Linked DNA regions of Homo sapiens: region 2 is linked to region 1. The links come from fine-mapping of genetic effects on gene expression. A gene starts in region 1. The other region holds a variant in brackets. All regions are shown on one strand. Distances are from middle to middle.

Region 1 (15,498 bases):
AGGTGGCTCTACCGCCAGATCACCAGAGACCCCAGAGGTCCAGCCCTCCCTGGCGAACACTCCCTCTTCTGGCCACTCACTCAGTTTCTCTTTGTCTTATGCTTCTGGGTAGAATGAAGTGGGTCCTTAGCTGACTTCCCCACCTTTGGACATGAGCTGTGCACTGGAGGTCTGAACAGCTCTGGGGGCTGTTGGGAGACTGGAAGGAGGCACATGCCTGGCACCAAACCCAGAGCACGCGGCCATCAGTCAGCTGATCACCATCGAGCGTGTGCTTGGGCCAGGCGCTGCTGTCCTCAGACCGGGCATACATGGAGAGCATGGGTCACAACCGTTTAGGAAGTCCCTACAACAGGGCAAAGTCAGAAGAATCAGGAGTGGCTGCCAAAGCAGGTCAGGGAAGGCACCTCAGAGAGGAGACCTTTGAGTCCAGTCCTGAATCTGTGGCAGAGATCTGGAGTCAGGCACCCTGGGAGGGGCCCGGCAACAGCAGCAGCTGAGAGCTGGGCCTGAGTCTGGCAGGAGAGGACAGGTCAGAGGTTCACAGGCCCAGGCCCCCAGCACCATGTGGGTGGAATATAGTCAAGGCTGATGTAGATGGAGACAGAAGGCAGACGCAGGGGAACTTATGAGTGACCAAGATATGTACAGGGGCTTCATAGAAAGGCCTGGACCAAACTGACACACAGGGCCATAGAAAGCCAGAGTATTACTGCTGGGTGGGAGAAGTTTACAGAGCAGCCTTCAGTCCATTCTGCTAGTCCACTTGTCAGTTTCTGTTTGTTTGCCTGTCCTTGCTGAAGCTCTGTTGTAGGCATCCTGGTTCCACCCATGTAAACCCTGGAACCAGAGATAGGTAAGAAAGCCTCACTTAGCGGAAGGGTCCTCAGTGCCTTGCTTGCTGAGTGCTGCTTCCATCCAGGCGAGGGAGCTTGCCTGCTCTCATGAGCCATCTTGCAGCAGCCTCAGCGCCTCCTGAACTACCCTGACTCCAGGTTGTGATAGTGCCCAGCAGATTCCTCATAGGATTCCTACAGAATAGCACAGTCCTTGTGCACCCACCTTCCTCTGTGTATCGGTCACGCTCAGAGGGCCAGTCCAGAGGCCATACAGTCATCTCCAGCAGCCTGGCCTGCGAGTGGAGCATGGTGATTTTTCACATTGTCCATTTAGGTAACAAGTACTTGCTAAGTGCCTCCCAGGTGACAGGTACTTTTGCAAGGGCAGAGGATGCAGCAGAAATAACTCCAAGTTCGTGCCCTAGTGGAGCATGGGCTCCATGCAGATAAGCAAGCTGGCAGGTAAATGACACGTCTTCAGATTGAGAAAGGGCAAAACAAAGGGAGTGGGGCCCGCTGCTGAGGGGTGGAAAGGGAACTGTTTGCGATAAAGTACACACAAGGTCTGTGTTAGAGCAGAGACTAGAATGGAGGCAAAACCTCCAGGCAGAGGAACAGAAAAGCGCAAGTAGAGGAAGATCGAGATACCGAGAAATGCACTGGGGGCTCGATGTACTGTGCCGTTCCTTGCTGTGCTGAAAAAATCAGATGCCTCCCCAAACCCTGACTGGCTAATTGCCTCTGATCCACACAATGCGCCTCTCTCCGATGCAGCCACGCAGGCATGTAACTGCAGCTGCTCCACATGACACTATCAGAGCGTAAGATCAGATTGCATGAATGAAATCCCATTGCTTCCTGTAGGTACCTTCTGGTGACATGTCTTTCCAGCAGTGTCAGGGCACAGGTGCTGCCATGACCTCAGCCTCGCTTTCCTCCTTACCCTGACCACTCACTTTCTTCTTGCCTGAGTCAGTATTGCTCTTTAGTCAGATATGGGAGGATGCTTGCTCCTGGAAGTATCTGGACCAAATTTCCCCAAGATCATAAGACCTTCCTCCTGCTGCACCCACTTGAGAGCTTGCTTGAAGGTTTCCTGCAGTCCAGGCCGAGGGTCAAAACTCAACCTCTGGGTTGGGGTTAGGAGAGCTGACTGTGATTTGCATCCACTATTTTGTGCCTCAGTTTCTTCATCTATGAATTTAAGAATTTTGAATCACAAAGTTAATCATAGTCCTTACCTCACACCATTACGTGTGTGTTGAATAAGTTACTTATTTAGAAGGGTTACATGCTGAGAACAGTGCCTGGCATCTAGTAAACCCTCTTGGAAAAGAAGGGACACTTCTGAGTTCCCATAGCAAAGTAGAGTGGTCAGAGGAACCTGGCTGGGAGGCTTGGTGGGAGCATTCAGGGAAATGATCCATGGAAAATCTTCGGGAGAGTGGTGGTCATGTGGGTCTTTTTCAATAAGTCCTTCCCCATCTTGGTGGTGAGTGGACAGTCATCTCCAGGGGATCCCTAGGAAGAAGCAGTAGGTGCACGATGCACCAGCAAGCCCCACGCAGGCCTCAGTCAAGAGAGGAAATGCAGGAAAGAGGAGAGGGAGAGTGGAAAAAGAAGGGAGGGAGGGAGAAAGCCAAACATTTCAGTAGGATTAGAGGAAAAGAATGGGTTGCCTGCTGTTGCCCTGTAGAAGCAGGACTGTGGTGGGTAGGGATCTCTGGGCCAGGGCCAGATCAACTGCTTTCCCAGATATTCCCTGCTTCCAAAGCATCCTCCTGCCTCGGCCTGCACCACACCCACTTCCACACACAAAGGCAGCATGTGCCAGCTCCCCAGAAACAACCGAGGAAGCAGGTGGCGCCTGCACCCCCAGAAACCACTCACGCCATCACTACAGAGACACTGTGCACCCTGCAGCATTAGGGGTGTTGCTTGTACTATTTGGCAAAGTCAGCTTGGAGCACAGAGAAAGTTATCTGAGTAATGGATACGTGTTTGGGTCTTTCAGTTAACCCCTGACTCTTGGTCACTGCAAACATGAAACCAACATGATTATCAAAGTAGTGGTGGCCAGCCCTTGACTGTTGACTGTCATACACTGTGCTGTGTGTTTGATATACATTTTCTGAGATAATTATCACAGATCACTAGAAAGTAAGGCCCAAGAGAGCAGACTTTTTTTCCGTTTCATTCACCATCGTATCCACAATGCCTGGAAATTAGTAGGTACCCAAAAAATACTGGATGAGTGTGAGAATAAAGGAAGATATGAGTGGACAGATGTTTTCCAACATGGCTATTGCGGCGAGCTCTCAGAGATGTTCCTTCTCTCATTTCCATCTATCTCATGGGCCTGTCTTGGGCTCCTGTGGCTTTGTACTAGCTGGTAACATTTTTATCTCCCCATTCTCTCCTCATCCTCCTTGACTTTTTTTTTAAGGCAAGGTCTCACTCTGTCATCCAGGCTGGAGTGCAGTGGTGCAATCATAGCTCACTGTAGCCTCAACCTCCTGGGAACAGGCCACCCTCTCGCTTCAGCCTCCTGAGTAGCATATGCCACCATGCCCAGCTAATCTTTTTTTTTTTTTTTTTTTTTTAGACAGGGTCTCACTATGTTAGGCTGGTCTCAAACTCCTGACCTCAAGTGATCCCCTCACCTTGGCCTCTGAAAGTGCTGGGATTCCAGGCATGAGCCATTATGCCTGGCCCAATATTCTTGTTTGTTTATTCTTCCACATGAAAGGCACATTCATTTAGTCATATCCCAAAATTACCACTACAAGAATTTCTTCTTAAAATAAGAAAATATTATAAAGAATTGAAATCAACACAATTCATCATTCCAACAGTAATCTGACTTGCCTTTTATGTCACTGGGCAAAATAAAATTTATTATGGATATCGGCTTCATGTTTGTCACTATGATATCCTTTGACATTTTAGGCGAGGCAGGGAGGTAGCTTCTCCTGTGTAAAGAGTTCACTTTTGCCACCATTTATTTACGTGGGTTTTTTGCTGGTGTTCACAGAATATGCTGGCACCTTCTGGTTGTTCTTCAGTTGTTTCTTTTGTGAAGAAAGGAGTATAAAGATATGGTGATGTCTGGCATGGTGGCTCACGCCTGTAATCCCAGCACTTTGGGAAGCCAAGGTGGGCGGATCACGAGGTCAGGAGTTTAAGACCAACCTGGCCAACATGGTGAAACCCCATGTCTACTAAAAATTTAAAAAATTAACTGGGCGTGGTGGCGCACACCTGTAGTCCCAGCTACTCAGGAGGCTGAGGTAGGAGAATTGCTTGAACCCGGGAGGGGAGGTTGCAGTGAGCCGAGGTCGCGCCATTGCATTCCAGCCTGGGTGACAGAGCGAGACTCCGTCTCAAAGAAAAAAAAAAGACATGTTGAGTTCAGGTCATAGGACAGGCTGCCAAGAGCTGTTTCTCCATGTACCCTGCAAATGACTTGGGCTTCTGTGACGTTTTAAGCTCCACCCACTTCTGGGGACAGCAGAGTGACAGAAGTCCCCCTCCCAGACAGGGGAGAAGGATGGCCTCAGCACACAGCCAGTCAATTTCCTGTTCTTCAGCGCAGGTTTCATTGCCCTTTTATTCAAACTTCAAAAAGTAATCTTGGCCAGGCGCGGTGGCTCACGCCTGTAATCCCAGCACTTTGGGAGGCCAAGGCAGGTGGATCACAAGGTCAAGAAATCAAGACCATCCTGGCCAACATGGTGAAACCCATCTCTACTAAAAATAAAAAAATATTTAAAAATTTAAAAAATTAGCTGGGCTTGGTGGTGTGTGCCTGTAGTCCCAGCTACTCGGGAGGCTGAGGCAGGAGGATCGCTTGAACCCAGGGGGTGGAGGTTGCAGTGAGCCAAGATCGTGTCACTGCACTCCAGCCTGGCGACAGAGCAAGACTCCTCTCAAAAAAAAAAAAGTAATCTTTAAGGCTGTGCACGGTAGCTCATGCCCATAAATCCCAGAACTTTGGGCAACAGAGTGAGACCCCGTCAAAAAAAAAAAAAGTGGCTTCTGGAACTAGGTTGCTCTGCCACTTCCATCATTGTGTCCTGCTGGTTCTTTTTTTTTTTTTTTTTTTTTTTTGAGATGGAGTTTTGCTTTTGTTGCCCAGGCTGGAATGCAATGGCATGATCTTGGCTCACTGCAACCTCCGCCTCCTGGGTTCAAGCGATTCTCCTGCCTCAGCCTCCCGAGTAGCTGGAACTACAGATGTGCGCCACCATGCCCACCTAATTTTTTGTAGTTTTAGTAGAGACGGGGTTTCTCCATGTTGGTCAGGCTGGTCTCTAACTCCCGACCTCAGGTGATCCGCCCGCCTCAGCCTCCCAAAGTGCTGGGATCACAGGCGTGAGCCACCGCGCCTGGCCTATGTGTCCTGCTTCTTTATGTGTAAAATAAGGATAATAATAATATCTAATTCCTAGTGTTGTAATGAGGATTGTGTCAGTAACAGAACAGTGCCTAGAACAGAGTAAGTAAGCACTGCATGATGTTAACTATTAATAGTATTATCAAAATCATGGACCAGCCTATGCCGAACCAGAGAGAAGAGAGGTCCAGGAGCCCTCAGTTATCCCATCCACCATAACCAGGCACCTGCCCAGTAAGTGAGGAGGGTAAGGAAGAGGAGAAAAGTCAAGACCATGGTGGAAACACCCCAGGGCTCTGCTTCCTGAAGTCCCATGGCGGTGTCTGGGCACCTGAGTTTCTCTCATGGCCTCTGCACACTCCTTAGAGGAGGCCTCTGCAGGCAAGTCTGCTGCTACTCTTTAGGGGAGTCAGTTTCTCCCCAGCCATGGGGAAAGAAGAACGGCCCCTCTCGCTGAGTCGATCCTAGGCCACCATCTCCCTGGTCAGAGTGGAGCTGGGGTTGGGGGGAGTCCCAATAGGGAGACACCTCCAAGTTGAAGGGTTCCTCTGAATCTGGGTCATTTGTCAACCTAAGGGTCAGTCAGAAAGCCTGACCCAAAGCTCTGGCAGAGGGTCAGCTGCAGGGCTCTCCGGGAAGAAAGCACAAGGCAACTGCAGTTTCTCTGCTCTGACCAAGAACACTTCCCGACGCCCTGGCCTTCAGAGCTGACCACTCAGCGCCTCCTGCTGGCCCAGGCCTCAGGTCCTTCCTAGGGCTCCATACAATGAACTCTGGAACTGGATTGATGGAATGAGCTGAGGGCCTCTGGGTTTCTCTTTCAGCCAACTGGTAGCACCCAACAGAGCCAATCTTAGCCCTGGCTGGTATGTGGAGAACACACTGCAGGGCGGCAAGGTGGAGACCTGGAGGGAGAGGAGGAGCTCGGATCAGGGTGGTGGCAGGGAGGCAGGGAGACTTGAGGGGATCTCCGATATACAGTCTTCGATTTAGGACAATTTCCACCTACAGGATTTTTCAACTACAAAACCAGTATGCATTCTGCACGCTTCTTGACTCATGATGGGGCTACATCTGGGTAAGCCCATAGTAAGTTGAAAATACCATAAGTCAAAAACGTACTTTCGAGTCACAATATTTTCAACTTAAGATGGGTTTATGTGGATGTAGTTCCATCTGAAGTTGAGGAGCATCTGTATTGTAAAGACAGTAATGGCAGGATTTGTGGGTGGTCCAGGATGCTCCCAGGCTCTGTCCCTGAGCAACCAGGAAGATGGAGTTGCCATTTTGGAGACGAAGAACCTACCAAGGTGTGGGTTTGGAATCAGGAGTTCTGCTTTGAAAGTGAAGTCTCACCGTGACTCATAATTTGTGACATTTCCAAACCTTAATTTGCCTATAGAACTTTTCTTTTTCCAGAGCCTCTATCCAGACTACTTATTATTTATCAAAATAAATTAGATAAATAAATAACTTAATTTTAGAATTCATCTTCCAGATATACTTTACACAGATCATTCCAATAAAGGCAGGTTGGGGCCCGGGACAGTGGCTCACCCCTGTAATCCCAGCACTTTGGGAGGCCGAGGCAGGAGGATCACTTGAGGCCAGGAGTTTGAGACCAATCTGGGCAACATAGTGAGACCCTCCCCCTAGACCCCATCTCTACCAAAAAAAAAAAAATTAATTGGCTGGGCTTGGTGGCTGGCACCTGTGGTCCCAGCTACTGGGGAGGCTGAGGTGAGAGCATCGCCTGACGCCAGGAGATCGAGGCTGCAGTGAGCTGTGATCTCGCTACTGCGCTCCAGCCTGGGTGACAGAGTGAAACCCTGTCTTTAAAAAAAAAAAAAAAAAAACAGCAGGTTGGGAAAATCTACAAGGAACAAGGGCAATGTGTGTATGTTATTTAAAATAAGATCATAAAACGTATTTTAAACCTTCCATAATCCTAATGCTCTAACAAATAAATTAGTTGGCCGAGCGTGAAGAGTCACACCTGTAATCCCAGCATTTTGGGAGGCCGAGGGAGGCGGACCACCTAAGGTCAGGAGTTCAAGACTAGCCTGGTTAACACGGTGAAACCCCCGTCTCTACTAAAAATATAGAAATCTTTGGGAGGCCAAGGCGGGCGGATCACGAGGTCAGGAGATCGAGACCATCCTGGCTAACACGGTGAAGCCCCGTCTCTACTAAAAAAATACAAAAAATTAGCCCGCGTGGTGGCAAGCGCCTATAGTCCCAGCTACTTGGGAGGCTGAGGCGAGATCATCGCTTGAACCCGGGAGGCGGAGGTTGCAGTGAGCCGAGATTGCGCCACTGCACTTCAGCCTGGGCAACAGAGTGAGACTCCGCCTCAAAAAAAAAAAAAAAAATATATATATATATGTATACACACACATATATATACATACACATATAAATTAGCTGGGCGTGGTGGCGCACGCCTGTAATCCCAGCTATTTAGGAGGCTGAGGCAGGCGAATTGCTTGAACCTGGGAGGCGGAGGTTTCAGTGAGCCGAGATCACACCACTGCACTCCAGCCTGGGCGACAAGAGTAAAACTCTGTCTCAAAATAAATAAATAAATAAATAAATAAATAACTTAATTTTAGAATTCATCTTCCAAATATATTTTACACAGATCATTCATTCATTCCACAGATTTTTTTACAGCATCGAAAAGAAGCCTGCTATACACACATCGGTACATTTTTATTATTTTAATTATTAACAGCATAAATGTTTTCATGCCAGTTTTCATAATCATTGTAATGATAATTGTCATGATTGTCTCTCCGTGGCGGGGAAGAATCTGGGTGCAGGGCTTGGGGATCCCTGCGGTCCGCGGCGTGCAAGTGCCACTCCCTGGGGTGCTCCCGGAATCCGCGAGCCACGGAACCTAAGAACGCCGACCCGCCGGAGCCGGAGGGCAGACGCTGGCACACCGGACGCGGGGACGCCAGAAGCGGCTGGACCCGGAAATAGGGGTTGTCGGTAGCCGCCCCGGGAACAAGGACCGGAGCTGGATCCGCGGTGCGGCTGTGGGTGAGCGGCGGGCTGCGGGACCCTCGCCCGGCGGCTCAGAAAGGCGGGAAGCGCACGCATTTTTCTGGCTTGTTTCCTGAACGTTGGCCGGCGGAGGACCCGCGAGCTCGGGAGAGCGCCCGGGCCGGGCTCTGCATTCTTGTTGCCTCTTCCCTGGCGGGGGTGATACTCTCCCGCGGGGCTTGCTGTGGGGGTTCAGGGAGGTGGAGATGGGCCCGCCATGTGCCTGCAGGGAGCAGGCGCTGTGGTTAATACTTTTCTTCTTCGAACCCTCCCACAGCTCTTTAGGGTGAGATCTGCTGTACCAGTCTCACAGGTAGGGAAACTGAGGCTCAGGGAAGCTGTGCAGCCACCGGGGCCCAGATCGGTGCGGTACACACCCAGGCAGCTTCCACTCGCCGCCCCCTAGGCCCTGGCTGGGTTTTGAGGGCACCCAGGTTCTCTGACCTGTTATCTGTAAATGAAGTAGGGTACTTTTGTGAACAAATTAGCTGGAATCCAGGGGCAATAATTTCTCGCAGAAGTGAAAGGTAAGATGTTCCTAGTCTTGCCTTTTTATCTTCTCACCTTTTGAAACAGGACCTGAGAGGCCAGCCTAACTTGGGCTTGATGGCCAGCCAGTCCTGGGATTCTTTTGCCAAGGTCACCTGACACTAGTGTGACTTGTTCTGAACCTCCATTTACTCACAGTTTTAAAAAATTACAACACCTGCCTTATGGGGTTGCTGGCGAGATTGAATAGTGTTGATAGCTATGGTGTGCCTACTACAAAGGAGGAGCTTAAGAAATGGTTGTTTCCCTCTTTTCCTGATTCTAGAAGCATTTGGTAAAGTTACTGAGGTGGTAAATCCTAGGAATTTTAATGCTATTCAGACCACTGCTAGGCCTACTCCCAGGCCACATCTGCTTGTTTCTTTTTTTGTTTGTTTTGTTGCAGGCAGAGTCTCACTCTGTCACCCAGGCTGGAGTGCAGTGGCGCGATCTCAGCTCACTGCAACCTCCGCCCCCGGGTTCAAGTGATTCTCCTGCCTCAGCCTCCTGAGTAGCTGGGATTACAGGCATGCGCCACCACGCCCAGCTAATTTTTGTATTTTTAGTAGAGACCAGGCTTCACCATGTTGGCCAGGCTGGTCTTGAACTGCTGACCTCGGGTGATCCACCTGCCTCAGCCTCGCAAAGTATTTGCTCACTGTCTATTTACCGTGAGAATGCACAAAGCAAAACCCGTGTTCTCCTGCTGCTTACTTACTTTCTAGGAGCTGTAAGACAAGAGCTGAATAAGTAGATGGAAGCTGTACCAAGTGTAGTGATGAGTGCTACAAGGAAGCAAAGCTGGGCTGCTGTTCCATCAGAGTGCTCACAGAGGCAGGACAGGATCAGGCTTGGGGCACGGGTTCTAGAACAACCAAGTCCAGCCACTGGAGCTCTGGTCTCTCTGACCCCACAGTCCCAGTCTAGGCCAATAAAATGGCAGCACCTATTAGCATCCCTGCCTAGGATGCTGGCAGGACTGCCTGGTCCCTGGTGTGTCCTCATTATGTCATACATAATTGCTGACTACTCTGTGGCATAGACATGAGAAAATCTGAGGAAACATTTTAGGACAAAATTTCCTACTTTGGAAGAGATGGGAAACTCAGACCCTCACAGAACAATGCCCCTCTGCTGCGAGTTTTCCCTTTTGGCCTCTGGCTTCCCAGGGTGAGAGAAGGGGAGTCCCTAAATCTCTTTTAAACCTCACTTCTGGGCCTCTGATTTTGGTAGAATCAAAACTTCCCCAGAACGGAGAGCAGAGGCCAGTCATAATCACCTTGGTTGTTCATTCATTCCCTCAGCAGGCATTTAGTGCATGCTGGGTGCCAGAAATATGGCAATGAACCTGACAATTGTGGGAGAGACAGACTGCTGACGCCAGATGCAGTCTTCAGGAGGGGAGGGGCAGGGGTCAGAGCAAGTAGACTAAGGGGGAAAAGTGGCCTAGGCCGAAGCCTGCTGGCGCACAGGGAGGAAAGGTGGGTGCGCAGCAGAGCCTTGGGAGATGCAGCTGGAGCTGTCATGGGCCAGAGAGCTCATCTGCAGACAGTGTCGTCATTCCACAAGGCCTCGGCTCTTTCACTGTGGGATGGTTGTACATTTAAGGGGAACATCCACTTACTTATTTTGAGGAAAAAAGCAAATTGTCATTTTATTTGGGACAGCTTTCTGGTCAAGATTACTGATTTCACTGTAGTCCTGTGATCTCTTAAGTGGGGAACAAGGTTGACAGCCCAAGGCCGACCTTGGACCTCTTCCCCTGCACAGCATGATGAGCAGCAGAAGCCCCTTTAGTGAGGGAGTTCCTTTGGCATCCTTTCTGAACAATGCCCTTTACAACCCTCCTTTATTTTTCTGGTTTTATTGTAAAGTCCCTTGTCTTAGTTCTTGTCCCTCAGTCACCTGTGTCCAGGCGCTAAATGTAAAAGGTGCAAAAGGGAATGTGGTGAGGAGGCACCCCCAGCCCTGACCTCCAGGCCCTAACACCCACTCCAGGTGATTGCTTGGACTGTTTGTTTTGCGTTCCATCCAGACATATCGCCTCTTCATAATCAAGTGCACACGTGTGCACACATATGTGTGATCACAGATGGCAGTGCTCTCTACACACCGTTACATGCCCAGCTTTCTTAGCATGATTTATTTCAGTGATCTGATCCACGTTAGTATGTACCAAGCAGATGCTTTCCTTTGTAATGCTGCCAGGTGCTCTACTGTAGAGAATGCCATGCTTTTTTTTTTTTTTTTTTTTTTTGGAGATGGAGTCTCACTCTGTCGCCCAGGCTGGAGTGCAGTGGCGCAATCTCGGCTCACTGCAAGCTCCGCTTCCCGGGTTCACACCATTCTCCTGCCTCAGCCTCCCGAGTAGCTGGGACTACAGGCGCCTGCCACCATGCCCAGCTAATTTTTAGTATTTTTAGTAGAGACGGGGTTTCACCACGTTAGTCAGGATGGTCTTGATCTCCTGACCTCGTGATCTGCCCACCTTGGCCTCCCAAAGTGCTGGGATTACAGGCGTGAGCCACCGCGCCCGGCCAGAGAATGCCATGCTTTTATTTAACCACCTCCCTGTTGACAGACACCAGCTTGTTTCTAACCTTTTATCATGATTGATAATGCTGCAGAGAACTCCCCAGTGATGTGGTTCATCACAGGCACCACCGTGCCCAGCCTGAGGCCACTCCAGCGCTGCCCTGTCCTACCTCCTGGGGACTCAGAGTCCACATGGACAGTCTTGTCAGGGCCCACCACTGACTCCTGTGAGTCTCCCCAGGTGACTTCACTCTCTACCTGTCTCACAGCCCTTGCCCTCCCTGGGTCAGCATGCCACCACCCAGGCCCCTCTGTAATTCCTGTTTGAGCCTCCCACCCTCTGGGAGTTGCTTCTTTGACTCCCACTTCCTGCTCTTGTGCCTCACTTCCTGGACCCCACAGAGCACACCCTCTGTGGACCCTCCCCAACCCTCACCTCCCTCTTCACCCAACTCAGAGTCAGGTTCTGTCCTTGTAATCTCTCCCCTCGAACCCTGACCCACTCCCTCTCCCTCCTACTCACCTGGACTCTCCCATCTAACTAAATCCAGTGCTTCCTCTGCTGTGGGCCTGCCCGCAGCATCACCACCTGTCCTCCCTCAGTGGACAGCCGTACCATGCCTCCTCCTCCACCAAGAGAAGTGCAGCCTTGTGGCAGCTCTGCATCGCCTGGATGCTGACCGGCTGCCTCTCTTGCCCCTCACCCTCCCAAGGCCATCACTGCAGCAGTTCCTTCCCCTCCGGCACGCAGCTTCTCTTTTCCTTCTCGCCAGAGCAGTCCCATCAGCGGAGAACATGCTGGCACAGCCACCATCCTGAAACAAGAGGGGACAGTGCACCAGCCTTCTCCCATCTCCCAGGTTTTGTTGAGCTCACCCCATGCAGCTTTCATCTGTCACTCACCACATGGCCCCATCAGGATTACCCAGGGCTCTGTTTGCCAGACCCTACAGTCAGGTCTCAGCTGCCATCTCGCCTGGCCTGTCAGTGTCCCCCACATGGTGATAACTGCCCTGAAGTGCTCTTTCCTGTGGCTTTCAGGACCTTACCCCTCCTGACTCACCCTGCTAGCTCCTCATCTCCCGACCCCCAGCCTGGGCTCCTTCCACATTGCTGCCACCTCCTCCAGGCCACCCAGGCTGTCCAATGGGCAGGTCCCGTTTAACACACCTGAAGTCCCACATCAGACTGCCAGTCCCTTCCTGTCATGCCTAAGCCAAAGCCATGGGTTGTTCCTTTTGCTTTTTTGTAAAGATGAGGTCTCATTGTGTTAATCAGGCTCTTCTCAAACTCCTGGCCTCAAGTGGTCCTCTTGCCTTCGCCTCCCAAAGCACTAGGATTATAGGTGTGAGCCCATGGCAGGTGTGAGCCCATGCCCAGCTCTGCCTCAGGTCATTCTTGACTCACCTTCCCCTCCCCCTCCCATGTCCCGCCATCCCAGGTCTGCCTGGATTCTGACTTCCCTCGCATCCTCCACCACTGCTACCCAGGGCCCATTCATCCTCTTCTATGTGGCAGCCAGAGAGGTCCCTTTAACACTTGAAGTCAGATTATCCCACACCTATGCAAACCCTCTGCTGCCTCCCAGCACCCCTAGAGCAGACCCACATTCTACACCCCTGCTCCCTCCCTCAGCCCCATGAGCCCCCCTGCCCAGCCATATCCTCCCCAAGGACCTCACCTTCCCTGCTCCTTCTGCCTGGACTCTTCTCCCAGGTGTCACCCAGCCCTGCCCTGTCCCTCCCCTGCTCCCATACTACAGCATGAGTTCTGGGAGGGCAGGACCTGGTGTTGCTTTGTGCTGTATTCCCTGCATCCTGGACTAGGCCAAGCATGCAGTAGGTACTCAATAAATAACTGGACTATTAAGTTCATTCCAAGGAGTGGAATTGCTGGGATGTGCACTCGGACTTTGAGAGGGATCCCTGAATTGCTGCACATAGAGGTTGTTCCCATTTAACTTCCCCATGCCCTCATCTGCTGTGTGTGCAACGACTTTGAGTCTCTCCCTATGTGATAAGCACAAGCTCATTGTAGTTCTGAGTTTCTTCTGCGAGTGTTGTTGGACATGATGTGATACCACAAAGGTACTTACGTGGTGGTTTTCCCTTTTTTTTTTTTTTTTTTTTTTGTTTGAGATGGAGTCTCACTCTGTTGTACAAGCTGGAGTGCAATAGCATGATCTCGGCTCACTGCAACCTCCACTTCCTGAGTTCGAGCGATTCTCATGCCTCAGCCTCCCAAGCAGCTGGGATTATAGGCACCCACCACCACACCCAGCTAATTTTTGTATTTTTATTAGAGATGGGGTTTTGCCATGTTGGCCAGGCTGGTCTTGAACTCCTGACCTCAAGTGGTCCACCCACCTCAGCCTCCCAAAGTGCTGGGATACAGGCGTGAGCCACTGTGCCCATCTAGGTGGTAGTTTTTCTTTATGCTGAGATTATTTTATTTTGCTTTTACTTTTTTTGAGACAGGGTCTTGCTGTCACCTAGGCTGGAGTGAAGTGGCTGTTCTATCCACAGGTGCAGTCATGGCACACAACAGCCTTGAATTCCTGGCCTCAAGCAAGCGATCCTCTTGCCTCAGCCTCCTGAGTGGCTGACACTATAGGCATGTGCTACCACACCTGGCTTGTGAGATTTATTTTAAAAGCACATGTTTTTCCTAATATTTTCTGGTTTCATTGTTTCTACTCAAACCTTTGCTAGATCTGGAATCGGTTTTAGTGGGATTTAGGAAGCAGGAGTCTAACTTTATTTTTTTTCACAGCAGATTTCCCAGTTGTCTCAATACGAGTCTTTTTTTTCTTTTTTAATACGGTGCTATGTTTATAAACATCAGTGCTACATTTATAATGACTGAAAAAACAAAAAGGGTTCATGTGGTTTTCTTTTACTTGGCTAGCAGGTATTGAATGTCATGTGTCAGGCACAGAAAGCTGTTGCAAAGACCAACAGTGATTCAGACACAAAGCCCATCGTGTCCTATTTTGGGGGTGAAGTAGTCGCTGATGATGGCATGATGTGAGTGGGTTGGAATGGAGACCTAGCCCAAGAGCTGTGGGCACAGGAGGGCTGACTTACCCTGCCAGTGGTGTTGGGAGACTTGAGCTGGGCCTGTGGGCCATCCAGCTGCATCCTCCAGGCCTGGCGGAGCTTTCTCTCAGGCAGGGAAGCGCAGGCACAGAGGCTTCAAGTGCGTGTTTGCTTCGATGATGATATTTGATTTAATTTGGCCAGAGCATGACCTGCAAAGCAAAAGGTGGAGTGGAATAGGTGGGAGATAGATGTGACAGAGTCCTGATGTCTGCTTGGGGCTGGACCGACTAGCCAGAGGGTCTCAGGCCCATCATGGATCAGAAGGACCTGGGGGGCCCAGCCTGGGCATCTGCATTTTGTAAAGTGTCCTGGGGCGTCCAAGTGCTTTGCTGAGCGGGAGGTGCTGCTCTCGGCCACGATAGTTCCTCTTTCCAGGTGAGTCCACCTGTAGGTGGAAGAGCCAGTCCAGAGAGGAGGGCCAGGCATCCACCTGGCCTGACCCATCACTCCAGATCCCCAGGCCCCAGCATCTTCCTAGCATGGATTTAGGAATAAAATTGACCTGAGATCACTGGGGCCACTTCACCTTCCCCCAAATGGAGCCACATTCCCAGGATCATCTCAGCCACTTCAGCTGACCTGGTAGTTTTTTCTTGTTTTTAATCTCAGATGTCTTCAAGTTTCCCTAATTCCCTAATTTTTCTTCTTCTTGCCTCAGGTTGGTCTTGTTTTTTCTTTGTTAAAGTGATTTTCCTTGTAGTGGTGTAGGTTCTATTGACAGCATTGCTATCCTGAGTGTCTTTTCTTCTCTTTAGGAGTCAGCATTGGTAATAGTGCTGTGCTGCGGAAGAGTGGAGTCTAAACTTTTTCATTGCCAGTGCCCCGAAACTGGAGTGTGAAGGACCGAGACAAAATGAAGACTGTGCTCATGGTTGCTGAAAAGCCGTCCTTGGCACAGTCAATTGCCAAAATCCTCTCTAGAGGTAGGAGAGACCAGCCCTGCTTTGGTCTGTAAGCACGGTCGTTTATGTGTTACAGGACATTTTTTCCTAATGTGATTCCACCCTGGCTGGGGTAGATTTGGTTCGGGTCGGCAGGTGGTAATGAAGCA
Region 2 (15,498 bases), 32 kb after region 1:
AGGCCTCCGTAGGCCAGGTCAGTGACACCTCCTGGCTGGGTTGAAAGAGCAGGTGCATTAACACCACACATGGCCAGGAACACGTGCCTCTGACGCACAGGGCTGCTGCCCTGCCGTGCTGCCAGGACAGTAGAAACCACCGCCTATAGGGACCCTTTCACACTCAGACCCTTGACCACGTGTTGCGGAGCCTTTTGCTGGGGACTGGGAGGGAGATGACTCCTGCACTCTGCTTGCCCGCAGGCATGGATGAGTTGATGGAGGTGTCTTTCTCGCCCCTGGCGGCCACAGGCAAGCCCCTCTCACGCTGTGGGAAGTGCCACCGCTTCATGAAGTACATCCAGGTAGGTGCAGGGAACACTAGCTCAGGCAAGCTGCCTCACCCCTGTAGGCCTCAGCTTTATCGTTGATCAGCAGGAATCATGTTCTTTGTCCTGGTTGTCACAAAAGAATGATGGAACATAAAGAGGCCTTGCCAAAAAATACCCAGTGTCCCCACGTCCCCTAGAATACACAGCCATTAGGCCACGCAAACACACATGGTGCATTTTTCCCTAACACCATGCCACTTGCCATCATGGGCATTAATGTACACACAGAGATTTTAGAACTGCCTTTTCTGCACGCGTGGAGCAAGAGCCAGAGACTCATGCTCCTTGCCTGGCAGTGTGTCACAGGTTCTGCATGACAGATTACATACTTTGTATTATGAGAGGAGTGGGGGTGGGTGCCAAGTCGGTGGCCCCAGTGACCCTCACGCCACCTGCCTGGCATTGCCGCAGGCCAAGCCAAGCCGCCTGCACTGCTCCCACTGCGATGAGACCTACACGCTCCCCCAGAACGGCACCATCAAGCTCTACAAGGAGCTCCGCTGCCCTCTGGATGACTTCGAGCTGGTCCTGTGGTCATCAGGCTCTCGGGGCAAGAGCTACCCGCTGTGCCCCTACTGCTACAACCACCCACCCTTCCGAGACATGAAGAAAGGTGAGTGCAGCCACTCCCTCCTGTCCACAGGTAGCTGCAGTCTCTTTTCAGTGCCAACCCCTGCCTTGCACCAGGCTGGACTCTGAGGGGACCCCTCACCCTGGCCTTTCCTGCACTCATTGGCACTGAGACGAGAGACCCTGGATGTAGCTGGGGCACTGCTTAGGCCTCAGCCAGTGGTGCCACCCTCTCTCTGTGTCAGAATCGAGCAGGCAACCCTAGTCCACCCTCAGGACCTGGGCACAGGTGTGCAGTGCTCCCTCTGGAGCTGAGTGAGCAAGAGGATGCAGCAGTCGGGGGACCCACCCGGTGAGCGGGCACCCCCAGTCAGCGTCCACCACCGTCCTCCATCCTCATCCTCGTCCTCATTACTGGAGGAGGGAGCGCATGTCCAGGCAGGCAGGACAGAGCACCGAGCCAGACCAGGAATCAGCGGGAGTGAGGCATCTGCCCACATTCACCGTGTGCTCTGCAGAAAGCTCCCTCAGGCCTCAGTCTGCACCCAGGCTGCCCCGGGAGTGAGACCCCATCCCTGCCCTCCTGCTGCCGCCAGAGTAGCTGACAGGGTGGTTCCATGTGGCCCAGTGACATGAGGGTCATGTGGCATTACCAGTAACAAGCTGGCAGCAAAGCAAAGGGGGGATGGAGTCAGCTGAAACCCACTGGGATGGTGCCAGCGAGGGGCCTTGAAAGTTGAGGAGGTTTCAGGTAAGCAGAAAACAGGGGTAATGGCAGCCAGGAGCCGAAACATGAGCAAGGCTGTCCCCAAGAGCAAGGCCAAGAAGAGTTCCTTCTGCTGGGACGAGGGATCCAGGAGCTTGAGGCATTGGGAGCAGGCAGCAGAGGGCAGGTGGGCACAGTGGGCGTGCCTTTACAGGGCTCCCTTCTCCCGCCAGGCATGGGCTGCAACGAGTGTACGCACCCCTCCTGCCAGCACTCGCTGAGCATGCTGGGCATCGGCCAGTGCGTGGAATGTGAGAGCGGGGTGCTGGTGCTGGACCCCACCTCGGGCCCCAAGTGGAAGGTGGCCTGCAACAAGTGCAACGTGGTAGCGCACTGCTTCGAGAACGCCCACCGCGTGCGGGTGTCCGCCGACACCTGCAGTGTCTGTGAGGCCGCCTTGCTTGATGTGGACTTCAACAAGGCCAAGTCCCCACTCCCGGGCGATGAGACGCAGCACATGGGCTGCGTCTTTTGTGACCCCGTCTTCCAGGAGCTGGTGGAGCTGAAGCATGCGGCCTCCTGCCACCCCATGCACCGCGGTGGACCAGGGAGAAGGCAGGGTCGAGGGCGGGGCCGGGCCAGGAGGCCCCCTGGGAAGCCCAACCCCAGACGGCCCAAGGACAAGATGTCAGCCCTGGCCGCCTACTTTGTATGATGACCCTGTCCTCCCTCACCCAGGCTGCAGTGCCATGCAGACACCTCATGGCACTTCAAACTATTAAAATGCATTTTATCTTATCCAGAGCTGGGGCCCCTTTGCTGGTGCAGCGATGTCAGAGCGTTACCGTGTCCCTGGGCACCTGTGGGGCCCTCTCTCCCTCTCCGAAACCCAATACGTCTCCCTTCAGCCTGCATACACGTGCCCAGAGTGCTCCCTGCTATCCCTACACCCTGGCAGTACGGGCAGGGATGCCCCAACCCTGAAGCCCTGGGGAATAGACCCAGTTTGCACTCACACCCCATCTCAATCCGTGCTGCTGATGGTAGCTGTGTGCACAAGCAGTGGCCCTGATGCCTTAAGGAAGGCGGCCTTGACAGCTGTGGCTCCGGCAGGAGAGGAGTCTAGTGGAGCAGGTGGGGCTGGGAGACCCCCTCCCCGGATCTGGCTTATGAATCCCCTTGGTCTTCGCTGCAGCCCCCTGCTCAGGGCCACGCTCTTGACCCCACACTTCTCCGTCCCCTGCTCCCTGCTCCCATCTCTGAGAAGCCCTGTACATGGTGCCCGTGTGCGTCTGGCAGCTTCCCAGGACCTGCTGCAATTCCCATTCTCACAACAAGCCCTTATGGTCTTAGAGGCAGCTGGGTGCCCCATGGAACCCATTCACATGCCAGGTTTAGAAAATACCCTGTAGGCCAGACTGCCGTGTGGTGCCAGGTGCTGGTGGCAGCTGCCCTCTGACCTCAGTGCCTTCTTGTGCTCCCCTCCCCAGCCACCCGAGGAGAGACACCTGTGCGGGATCCACTGTGTGTTGGAAACTCCCTCCACACTCCGCCCGTGCCTCATTGAGTGATGACGGGAGCTCAGCAAAACAGCTTTCCAGACTGTTCAGTGGGACCTTTCTTTGAGGGGCAGGTCAGGAATGTTTCGGACTCAGACCCGCCCCCGCCCCAACTCAGTAGTAGATTCCCAGGCTGCACCAGGACTTATATGAGAGCTCCTGTAAGGAAACCCAGAGCCCACCAAGCATACCCCCCCTGGACCCCCTTCCTGGAGGCCCTCACAGGTTAACACGGGGGTTCCCTGGAACACAGTTTGGAGAGCTACTCGAAGCTGAATGAAAATACAGAGACATGGGGAACCACATAGAGGGTCCTGGGATGTGTCTCAGAAGCACAGGCTTCAGGAAGGAGGGGGTGCTCTCAGAGCTTCTGCCCCCTCCCACCCACTCTGGTCCCATTCTGGGGCCCTAGCAAGGCCACACCTGTTAGGTCCCCAGTGCGGGGCTGTGACTCTGCTCTTCCACCCACAGGGCCCAGTGGACCTGGAGCCTTCTCCGCAGAAGGTTTCAAGACCTCCAGGACCCTTAGGTTATAGGGCTCATTCAGGCTTGGAGGAGCAGAGACGGTTCCTAGGTCTTAAACCCAGACCACCCAGTCCTTCCTTACTATGCTTCTGCACTGCGCTTTCAGCCACAGGCAGGGCTAATCACAAAGTGTTCCTTTATTTTCCTCTGCAGTTGTCCCTTGTGTGTGACCCTCCTTCAAGGCCCTTGGCTTCCGCAGCTTGATTCTGCACTCCGAGTCCATTCACCTTCTCCCATCCAATAGCATCCAACCCCGCTGCTACTGCTGCCAACCTGGCCTTGGGAGCAATGAGGACAAGGAAGGGACAAGACCCCTTTTAGGCCAGAACTGCCTTCAGATCAGCCACGCTCCATGGGACTGTACCTCTGCCCTGGAGGCTGGAGAGGTCAGTGGCTGCAGACTGTCTCAAGGAGCCCCTGGCCCTGCCCACCTAGCCAGGGGTGCAGCCTTGCCAGAGAAGCAGAGAAGCGTCTGTGGCTGGGTGGGTGATATTGAAAGATTCCTTTCACCAGGGTGGAAGCCAGGATCTGAGGCGTGATGGAATGTGGACAGTGAGGCAGTGACAGCGCCACAAGGCAGGAGTCATCTCCAGGCACGTCCTTGGCCTGGAGCCCATAGGGACAAGCTCCTGGTGGTGCCTCACTTTGCCATCCTCTCTAAGCCGCAGACCTTGAATGGAATCAGTGCTCAAGAGTCTAATTGGGCCCACTCTGAGGATGCCTGCGGGAATATCAGCTTTTACCGCACCACACTGCACTTTACAGTGTGGGAGGGCCTGCCCCACGCACCACCTCACCTGTACTGCGGTTCTCAAACTTCACCCTACAGCCATTCTGTTGTAGGTGATCTCAGGGGCAGTTTGAGAAACAGTGGCTCAGGGTCTCACAGCAGCCCTCTGAGATAGGTTGGTTGCTATTGTCCCGATTTTTTCTCATCAAGAAACTGAGGCTCAGGTGAGCTAAGGAATGTGCCCAGGGCCACTGTTTATAAGAAGTAGCCTCAAGCCTTGCTCATGGTTACTGCCCTGACAGGGATCTAGGAAAGAGTGAGCAGGAGAATGGGATGAGGCAGGACCCTCCGCCCCAGCCCTGCTTTCTCTGCCCAGACACCTCCTGCCTTGCAGACCCAACCCCACCCCAGATGGTTTCCTTTCCAGTCACCCAGCTGCTAGTTCTCCAGGTTCCTGGTCTCACTCCAGGTTCCTCCTGTTAGAGAAGCATCCCAGAGACATTCATTCCTGGCAAGGACACAGGCCTGCGGACCTGAAGGTCAGGTGGGCAGAGCCACATAAGATCTGGTGCCCCATCCTCCATTTAAAAAATTATACTTTCCAACGGCATTGGTATAAAGGTGAATATATTAATATCATATATTAAAACATTTTCTTTGACATAAAGGTTTCTTTCTTCTGCCTTTAAAATAAAATATTTTGGCCAGGTGTAATGGTTCACACCTATAATCCCAGCACTTGGGAAGGCTGAGGCAGGAGGATCACTTGAGCCCAAGAGTTCAAGACCAGCCTGGGCAACATAGAGACCCTGTCTCTACAAATTTTTTTTAATCAGCTGGGCGTGGTGGTGCTTGCCTGTGTTCCCAGACACTAGGAAGGCTGAGGCAGGAGGGGAGGGTCACTTGAGCCCAGGAGTTTGAGGCTGCAGTGAGCTGTGATCATGCCACTGCACTCCAGTGTGGGCACCAGAGAAGGAGCTTGTCTCTAAAAAGAGAGAAAAAGAATATTTTCAAGAGCCTCTGTGTTGGCAGAAAAATGGCCCTTCAGAGATGTTCATGTCCTATACCTGTGCCTGTGTTAGATTACATGGCAGACCCGGCATAGTGGCTCACGCCTGTACTGTAATCCCAGCACTTTGGGAGGCCGAGGCAGGCAGATCATTTGAGGTCAGGAGTTTGAGACCAGCCTGACCAACATGGTGAAACCCCATCTCTACTAAAAATACAAAAAAAATTAGCCGGGCATGGTGGTGCGTGCCTGCAGTCCCAGCTACTCGGGAGGCTGAGGCAGGAAAATCGCTTGAACCAGGGAGGCAGAGGTTGCAGTGAGTCGAGGTCATGCCACTGCAGTACAGCCTGGGTGACAGGGTGAGACTCCGTGTCAAAAAAAAATAATAATAATAATAAGGGGCAAAGGGGAATTAAGGTTGCTAATCAACTGATTTAGAGAGATGATGCTGGACTATCTGGGTGGGCCCAATGGCATCAGGAGGGTCTTTAGAAGTAGCAGAAGGAAGCAGAGGAGGGAACCAGAGGTGGCAGTGTGAGAAAGGCTCAACTGGCCATTGCTGGCTTCGAGGCTGTAGGAAGGGGCCACGAGCCAAGGTATGCAGGGAGCCCTTAGGAGCTGGAAAAGGCAGGGGAACAGTTTCTCCCCTAGAATCCTCAGAAAGGAACGCATTCTGGCGATCCCTGGATCTTCGCCCACTGAGGCTAAGTGGACTTCTGACCTCCAGAACGGAAAGATAACAAAAGCCTCAACGTTTGTGGAAACAAACAACTCATAATGAGCCTGGGACTGTGCCTCCTTCCCGGACGGATGAGCCTGCCTGGGCAGTCTGGGTTTGCATCCCTGCTCTGTCACTTA[C/G]CAGCTATTGACGGCAGAAGTTGCTTAATTTCTGGGCGCTGTGACCTAGGGATTGCTTTCCCCATCCAGCCGCCCACCCAAAGCTGCAGAAGAGAAGCAAGAGGCTGGTGACTGGGGCGGCTCCGGAGCCCAGGTGGAGCCGCAGTTCGCCTACCACTAAAGGGCCGCAGTCACCGTCCACGTAGCCGCCAGGGGGCAGCAGAGGTCCGGCCCCGCCAGCCTGGAGGCCCGACTGCGCCTGCGCGGCGCCCGCGGCGCCCGCGGCGGCCAGGGACGGGAAGTGGGCGGGGCCGGCCGGCAGCAGCTTGCGGGACACGGAGCCGCGAGGAGACAGCTGAGGCCCGCGGAGACCAGGGGTGAGGAGGCCGGGGGGGACGGGATTAGAGGGCTGACGGGGCTGGGACGAGGGTCAGGCGAGCGCCCAAGGCGCACAGGGGTGAAATGGGACCGAGGAACCGGAGGGGTGGAATCAGAGGGCTGGGGAGGCAAGGAGGCCGAGACGAGGCTCACATGGGTGCACCGAAAGGGTGCGGGGGTGCAGTGCGGGGGGCCGAGGAGCAAGAGGGGCCGCTGCGGACATGAGGAACCCGAGGCTGGGAGTTGGGGGGCTGGGGAGCCAAGGGGGCAGAACTGGGGGGCAGGCGGGGGTGTGGCCGAGCCGAGGGCCTGGTAGGGACCGAGGGCTATGAGGCAGAATCGGGTGCTGAGGGGGACGCGCCCCATTTTCCGAGATTTGGCCTCTCCCCACCCCCCAGGAGCCTCTGGGCCGGCACGTTGCCCCATATCCCCCCAGTCCCTGCACCTTCAGGGGCCCAGTCTGCCTGATGGCCCCCGGCTCCGCGGCCTCCCAAGCGTCCGTGAAGCGAGCGTCAGCTGCACAAGTGCTCGGGCTGCAGCTGCTTCAGCCACAGGTCTGTGAGCCAGAGCCTCAGGCGCGGAGGCCGGGCACATTGCCGCTGGGTTCGGTCAGGCAAGCCCCTGAACCTGTCTGTACAACAGGAAGAACTGGCTCCGGCTGCAGGGATTTCGGCACAGCGCTTGACACACAGTGAGGCCCACTGCATGGTGGCGGGCTCCTTCGAAGCCTTCCACCCTGCGGGACAGAGTCACACATGTCGTGGTGGCATTCCCCGGGACAAGTTCTCTGGGCCCAGCTGAGCTCTCACCACGGGGGATAGAAAGTGGGGCCGGCCAGCACTCTGAGGCCATCTCCAGTCTCTTCTGTTGTCAAATTTCGCTCTTTTCCTCCTGCACGCGAGGTGGAAATACCAAAGGCATTGGGCATCCAGAGACCTTGATTGAGTTCGCTTTGCCCTTTCACCTGTGTGAGACCTTAAATGGGTGCTTGCCCTCCTATAACCTATTTCTTCATCTGCAGTGTAGCCTGACAGTATGTACTTCTCAGCGTAGTTGTGAGAGGTAAACAAAACGAATGCATTTCTGAAAGCCATGAACCTCTACACAAGTTCATTTGTGGAATTCCTTTAAGATACCCCCTGAAGGCCGGGCGCGGTGGCTCATACCTGTAATCCCAGCACTTTGGGAGGCCGAGGCAGGCATATCACCTGAGGTCAAGAGTTCCAGACCAGCATGGCAAAATCCCATCTCTACTAAAAATACAAAAATTAGCCGCGCGTGGTGGCAGGTGCCTGTAATCCTAGCTACTCAGGAGGCTGAGGCAGGAGAATTGCTTGAACCTGGGAGGCGAAGGTTGCAGTGAGCTGAGATCCCACCATTGCACTCCAGCCTGGGCAACAAGAGCGAAACTCCCTCTCAAAAAAAAAAAAAAAAAAAAAAAGGATACCATCTGACCTGAAGCCAACCGAGTCTTTTAAGACCTGGCGCTGCTGCCCACTGCACCCTTCAGAGTGGTGTAGCTTCCTCAGCCCATGCCACCCGCCAGTCACTCTTCCCTCTGCCATCACACTTACCACCTGCTGTACACAAAGGGCCATCGTGGGCTCCCTGACTACAGGGAGCTTACAGTCTATCAAGAAAGTCAGGCCTGTAGAAAGAAATGGTCATTGCACAGCAATGTGACTATGCTTAATGCCATGGAACTGTACGCTTAGAAATGGTTAAAAGGATACATAGTGTGTATATTTTACAACAATAAAAAAAATTTATATATGTAGAAAAAAAATCTAGGATTTACATCTAACTATTATTAGTATTAGTAGTTATGAATAAAGAAATAAGAATCTCTTTTGGTAGAAAAAGGTTGGCCAGGCGTGGTGTCTCATACCTGTAATCACAGCACTTTGGGAGGCTGAGGCGGGCAGATCACCTGAGGTCAGGAGTTCGAGACCAGCCTGGCCAACATGGTGAAACCCCATCTCTACTAAAAATACAAAAAAATTAGCCAGGCGTGGTTGTGGGTGCCTGTAATCCCAGCTACTAGGGAGGCTTAGGCAGGAGAATCACTTGAACCTGAGAGGCGGAGGTTGCCGTGAGCCAAGATTGCGCCACTGCACTCCGGCCTGGGTGACAGAGCAAGACTCTGTCTCAAAAAAAACAAAAACAAAAAAAAACAGTTAACATGAATGATGCTTTTGTTACACTATAGTGGTGCAGTTCCCTTTTCTAAGGATTGCTGGGTTTTTTTCATTACCTTGGTTCTGCAGTTAAGCAAGACTCAACAAGTATTTTTTCTATGTCCCCTAAAAAACTGCAGTTGTTAAACCCTGCATTCGTTAAGCTTAGGAGTCAAAACTAATGCACTAGAGGAAAATAAATATTTTAAATTAAAAAAAAAAAAACTTTTTACAAGTCAGATGTGAGCAAAAGTGCCATAGAGACATGAAAGAGAGCATGCTGGATCCAAAGATGGGGAGATTTCAGCAAAGCCTCAAAGGATCTGAGAGATCTCGGGAGGCAAAATGGAAGGAGGGCACCACAAAACAAGGAGGGGAGGGGCTGCCCTAGGGTGGGGGGTACACAGAAATGGAAGGAGGAGCCATGAGAGAGCCAAAGCCCAGAGCTGGTGGCCAATGAGGGACAGGTCAGGGATAGAAGGAGTCAGAATGACTTCCCAGGTGTCATCACAGTTAAGGCCCAGGTTCCCCAGCATGAACCCCACCCTGGGACTTTGGGCAAGTTCCTTAGCTCTTCTGCTACAGCCTGCCCTGTGAAGTGGGGATAACCACAAGAGGTTGTTGGGAGGCTAAAAGCCATCCCAGGAAGAGTGCTCAGAGCAGGGGCGGATGGCAGCTGGCAGCACCGTCAGCCACACCCCTGCAGCTGCCCCCCGATGAGTTTGCTTTGCCATTTCTCACCTATGTGGGACCTTAAATAGGTTCTAGGAGGGTGAGCACCCATTTGGTGTGCAGTGGGGCCCTGATCCAGGAGGAACCAGCTGCCAGTCGCATTTGGTCAGACTGGTCCAGGCAGGCGGTGCTGGGATGCAGGAGTCCAATGTCCCTCCCATGCCCACCCCGGGCTCTTGGTGATTTGCACAGGCTCATGCACACGTCCCTCTTATTCGGAGTTTTTCACTGGTGTGCCCTGCTCAGGAAAGCCCAGCACCAGGCTCCGCTGCCTCTGGTGCTCTCCCAGCTCTCCCTACTCCCTGCGGCTTGCCGCTGGCCTCCATGCCATTCCTGATGCTGTCTCTTCCAGTTGATCCCTCAAAGAACCACAGCACTGTCCCCTGCCCCTCCAGGCACTCCCAGGGCTGCCTCTGGTTTCCCTTGGTGAGGAATTTCTCCTTCCTGCCGGGTGTGCCATGGTGTACGTCAGATTCAGGAGCTTATTGGGAAAAGGAAGGAAATGATTCCTGTCCCTTTCGACATCTGGGCTCCAGGGAGAGAAAGCTGTGTCCTGGTTTCTCTCCTCACCCCTTGCCTTAGGTTGGTGATGCAGAAACAAGGGTGCTTGGTCCCCAGCAAGTAAGATGGCCCTGGGCACCCTGCCTTTGTAACAAGAGCAGGCAGTTGGCACAGGCCCTGAGAGTAAGCCAGCCTGTCCCCTCTACAGATGCAGACAGAGCTTCACACACACACATCATCACACCCCCCAGACCTTACTTAGTACACATGGCACAGACACCATTGAGGCATGTGCAGATAGTGGGCACAAGGCACAGAGAGAGCAGGCAGGTGGCCACAGTGAATCAGGGTCTGTAGTGCAGACAGGAGGAGCCACCCTCCCTGAGGGAACAGGCCGATTGTGGGGAGGGGCTCACGGCACAGGAAAGAGTACCCCAAGGTCAGGAGGCAAGAAGGAGGCACCTGCATCCCAAAAGGTCCAGCAGACGTCACCAGCAAATGGGGTGGAAGTGAAGGGTCTTGAATTCTGCCCTTGACAGTGGGGCTTTACACTGTGGGCAGGGGTTTCTCCAGGGGGGCCCTCTGTGTGCTCTAGCGGGGAGCATGCTGTCCTCTCACTTGGATCCTAATCATAAATTCACATGAGCACATTTTGTGGTGAGACAGTAGAGCCTCCAGATCACTTGGAATTGCAAGGGAGTGGGAGGAGGCCCCAGGCACTGGCAGTTGCTGGGGGCAGCTCTGCATCGTTCACATTCTCCCAGAAGCTCCAGGGGCCAGGGCAGTCCCAGGCAGAAGAGGGGCCCTTGGCCGCTTGCACTGCTTGAGGGCAGCCAAGCTTGCTGGGAAATTCACGCCATCTTCGAATGCCTTACAGCTCTGCTGGGGCATGGCTGGCAGGACGTGCCGCCTCCTCATTGACCTACTAGGGCTCCCAGCCTCTGCTCATTTCTCCAGCTCACAGTCTTCCCTTTGTCGTTTGAATGTCAGTGTCCCTCCTGCTCTCAAAGTGATTTTTCCTTTTTTGCTTTATGTTCTTTTTTTTTCTTTTTTGGTAGAGATGGGGGGTGGGGGGGGGGTGGCGATCTCACTGCCCAGGCTGGTCTTGAACTCCTGGCCTCAAGCACTCCTCCTGCCTCACCCTCCCCAAGCGCTGAGATATAGACCTGAGCCACAGCGCCTTGCCAGTTGTTTTATGTTCTTTATCCTTTTACCTGCTTGCCTTCTGTAACCTGGGTTGCATTAAATTTACTCCTACTTGTGAGTAAATGTGAACCATAGCAATAAATTTAGTCTATCCCCAGAACCTTCAGTAGCAAGCACCCCTATTCCTACGTTATTTGTATGTGTCCACTTTAAATAAATTACCTTTCAATTCTGCCTCTAAAAGAAGAGAAGGGTTTTGTGTTTTGTTAATTTACCACCCTTCACCCCTTGCATTCCAAATCCCTCACTGATCAGACATTTAACTTGGTGCTGGGACCTTTCCCTCTGCCCACCCCATTCTCTTTTGTGTTTTTTATCTTTAGGCTTCCAGAAGGCTTGTTCCAAGTTAGCAATTCCTGATAAGGACAGCCCTCTTGTGGGCTGTGAGCTCCCTGCATCTCTTACTTCCCACTCTCTTCATCCTGCACCTCAGGCCCCTGCCACAGCCGCCCTTTTAGCAAAGTTTGTAGGCAGAGTCTGTGGCTATTCTAAGACTGATGATTCTAGAAGATTCTCCTTGCCTTCTTCGTTCAGTTTTCAGAACCTGGAAGTCCTCATGAAGGTGATGGGCTGTGAAACTGTTCCCCAAATTCTCCACCCTAGAACTCGGGGTGTTCCTCAGAGTCTCATGTCCGTTTGTCACCATAAAAGAATGCAGTTTTTCTCCCTGGCTTAGTAACTGTGTAGGATTTCTTTTTTATTTTTTTCTGGATCCAATCTCATCCACTACTGCGTAGGACTCGCTGAATAAAGTTTCCCAGCCTGAGTGTTAGACAAAGCCCAAGGTGGAGTCCCCGCTGTGGGGAGGGTTTGGAGGGGTCAGGCACCCGAGAGGAAGGGGGCAGGAGAGAGAAGGGTCCATGCTGAGTGGGTGCTGGCAGGGAGGCCCAGGTGTGGGGCCTGGAGGTGAATCCCCGGGGCGACGCAAAGAACATGGAAGGGGGGGCGCTGGAGAGCTGTTTGGGTATAGGCAAGGCAGGCAGGCTGGGGAGGCGACTATGGAGATTCGGAGTTAGGAGAGAAGAGGAGCCAGAGCCACCCTGGGAGGAGGCTGTGAGGCACCATGTGCCTCTTTCCAGTGAGAGAGAAGCCGGTGAGGGAGTGAAGGCACAGGCTTTGCGATCCCTCTTTGGCCCTGTCTTCCTTCTGACACCTCAGGCGAGGGACTAACCCTCTCCAAACCTTGGGATTCTCATCTGTGAAATGGGGGCTTGTCCTGGCTCCTGGGGTGTTAGGGGCAACTCCCAGGGCTGGTCAGCTCTGGTCATCCCTAAGGACTTAGGGAGGAAGAGCCCACATGCCGCACAGTGGGGTCAGCGCCTGGAACTGTCCACAGTGCCCCTCTTCCAGCCAGGGCTTAGCAGGCCTGAGCCATTCTAGGCTCACAATTCCCTCCTCCTATTAGAGAGCATTGAATAGGCTCGATGGTGTCCCACAGCACCTCCTGTCTGTCCCAGATTAAACCTCTGCTTCTCTCCTGGCCACCCCTTGGGTGGCCCCAGCAGCCTCTGGGGATCCCTTCCTGCTCCCACTCTGGCCTATCTCCAAAACAGCCCTGGGCCGGCCTCCCGCATCTTGGCCCTTCTCTTTCCTCCCCTGAACACCACTAGAGCCCCAACAGGTGTCCCTCCTGCCATCTGGTCACCACGTCCAGGCTCACAGACCTGGTGGCTTCACTCCCTCACCTCAGAGCCCTCCTGGCTGCTCGGGACCCGTGATCAGGTTGAACCCCCTCACCTACCTCAGTGCCTGGCCTCGGCATCCCTGTCCTGCTCGTCTCTGGCCACGCTGGCCACCCTCTGCCAGGAACAGTCTTCCTCCTCTGTCACTTCTTGACAATGTCCACCCAGCTGCTGCTCCTGGCACCATCTCCTGAGACCGGATCTCTGGATGCCCACAAGTCCCCACCTGGACTCATGTCAAAACAGTGGCCAGGGTTGTCCCTCCACCCTCTAGTGGCCCTGAACCATGAGGCCATGCACCTGCCACATGGTGCTTGCAGGTGGGCACCTGCATTGCTGGTGCCATGGCCCCCTGATTCTGCTGACTCTGACATTTCTCCCCAGGGTGAAGCCTGGAGACCCTCTTGCCCTGGCCTAGCTGCAGGCCCCCGGGATGCTTTGGGCATGTCCTCTGGAGCCCCACAGAAGAGCAGCCCAATGGCCAGTGGAGCTGAGGAGACCCCAGGCTTCCTGGACACGCTCCTGCAAGACTTCCCAGCCCTGCTGAACCCAGAGGACCCTCTGCCATGGAAGGCCCCAGGGACGGTGCTCAGCCAGGAGGAGGTGGAGGGCGAGCTGGCTGAGCTGGCCATGGGCTTTCTGGGCAGCAGGTAGGCCTGTGCACCCCCAAAGGGGACGGGGAGTAAGGGCACGGCACCAGGGCCGACAAGGGATGTGGCTGCTGCTCCCCTACACGTCCAGCCCCACACGGGGATCTGCAGCCCCGGATCCCTATGCAGCACCATGTGGAACTCCCGTGGCTGCTATGGCAAAGCACCACACACTGGGCACTCAACACAGCCAAAGCTCATTCTTTCACAGGGCTGGAGGCCAGAGTCCAAGATCAAGGTGGCAGCTGCGCCATGCTCTCTCAAAGGCTGCAGGGAAGAGTCTGCCTTTCTGTTAGTGCCTGGCCTTGACTTCCTGGAGGTCCTTGGCTTGTAGACTCATTCCTCCTAGCTGGCCTTGTTGCACACGGCATCTCCCCATGTGTGTGTCTGTGCCTTCACACCTCCCCACCCTGCCTGCTGTGTGTCTGTGACTCCTCCTCTTGTAAGGACATGGGCATTTTGGACCAGGGGCTGCCCTCCTACAGTGTGATCTCATCTTTCTTTTTGTGGAGAATGGGGTCTCGCTATGCTGCCCAGGCTGGTCTCGAATTTCTGGGCTCCATGGATCCTCATGTTTTTGCCTCCCTAAATGCTGGGATTACAGGCATGAGCCACTCCAGCCAATGTGACCTCATGTGAACATAACTAATTACATTTGCAAAGACTTTAACTCCAAATAAGATCATATTCTGAGCCACAGGGGGCTGGGGCTTCAACATACCTTTTAGGGAACACAATTTATTGCATAGCAGCTGATAAGCAGTACGTCCTGTTTCCGATCCGTGTGATGGACGAGGAGGCAGAGGTGGGTAGATGAAGAGGCTGGCCTGAGGCCTTACAGTCAAGGAGTGGCAGAGCCACATGGCACCCCAGCCACCACGATCTGAGAGATAGCTGGCACTGTCCCCCTTCCACAGGTGAGGAAGCTGAGGCACAGAGAGGTAGCACAACTAGCCGAGCAGATTTCGGGGAAGATAGAGAGTTGGGTGTCCACCGGCAGACAGTGTGTAGCTGTCGCCTAGGCTGAACTCAGAGGTCCTTTCCTTGGAAGACCCTTGCCCTCCCCTTCATTTATTCATTCATTCTGGAAGCATTTGTCCCATGAAAGATGGTGAAGGACAAGGTCTTTTCTCGAACCCTCTCTGCTCAGACAGGGTCTTGGAGTTAGGCTGTCTGTCTGGCACAGGGGACAGCTCATGGAGGTGAGCAGGCTGGTGGGCCGCGTGCTGTTTCTGTGAACCTAGTCCCTTGCTGAGGGGATGTGCGCATGGTCCCCAGTCCCAGCATCACCCAAATCACCTGAAATATCACCTGAAGCCATGACAGGCCCTCAGCCATAGCTCCCTCTGACAGAGCCACCATCCTCGGTGGCTGCCTCAGTATCCCCCAAGTGTGCACTTCCTTTGCCCCTTGCAGCGAATCAACTCTGTTCCTGACACCCACCAAGGGCCTATTTTCCTTGACCCCAGGCCCTAGCAGAGTCAGTGACTTGTGCTCTCCCTGTGCAACATGGGCACAAACATTGCTAAGTGTCAGCCACATGCAAGGGCTATGCCACCCAGCATCCCCCACAGCTGCCTAGAGCTCAGGAGGAAATGTCCGGTGACCACGCTCCATGAGGTCATGGCATGCGCAAAGGGTGTTATTGGCTTGTTTTGAGGAAATATTTTAGATATGTGGCACAAAGTGAATCAGCCCCCAGTGGTGGAGCAGAGTGGGCCCAGCAGGGGTGCCAATGCACGGGAGGTGAGGAAAGGCCTCACGTTCTGCCTTCTTGAGAGGAGCAGGTGGCACTCTGCAGGGAGCAGGGGAGTCCAGACCAGGGAGTTCTGCAGCCACTGGGTCTTCGTGGAGGTGGCATGGGG

What was found.
Region 2: its variant is fine-mapped to the expression of TOP3B in blood mononuclear cells (TOPMed, PIP 0.90).

Annotation. Positions count from the first base shown.
Region 1 is chr22:21,975,512-21,991,009 of GRCh38, reverse strand. TOP3B (DNA topoisomerase III beta) reads left to right here and starts at 8,223. Exons shown (of 18, transcript NM_001282112.2): 1 at 8,223-8,280; 2 at 15,203-15,370. The coding sequence starts at 15,301. RefSeq lists enhancers at 8,044-8,338, 7,836-8,822, 12,273-12,442.
Region 2 is chr22:21,943,978-21,959,475 of GRCh38, reverse strand. It overlaps PPM1F (protein phosphatase, Mg2+/Mn2+ dependent 1F), which reads left to right and starts at 6,628. Exons shown (of 8, transcript NM_014634.4): 1 at 6,628-6,684; 2 at 13,368-13,633. The coding sequence starts at 13,428. It overlaps TOP3B (DNA topoisomerase III beta), which reads left to right. Exons shown (of 18, transcript NM_001282112.2): 16 at 244-344; 17 at 783-984; 18 at 1,881-2,451. The coding sequence ends at 2,362. RefSeq lists a silencer at 6,436-6,845 and enhancers at 6,839-7,359, 7,406-7,475, 15,042-15,498. The variant C/G (reference allele first, on the strand shown) is at 6,329.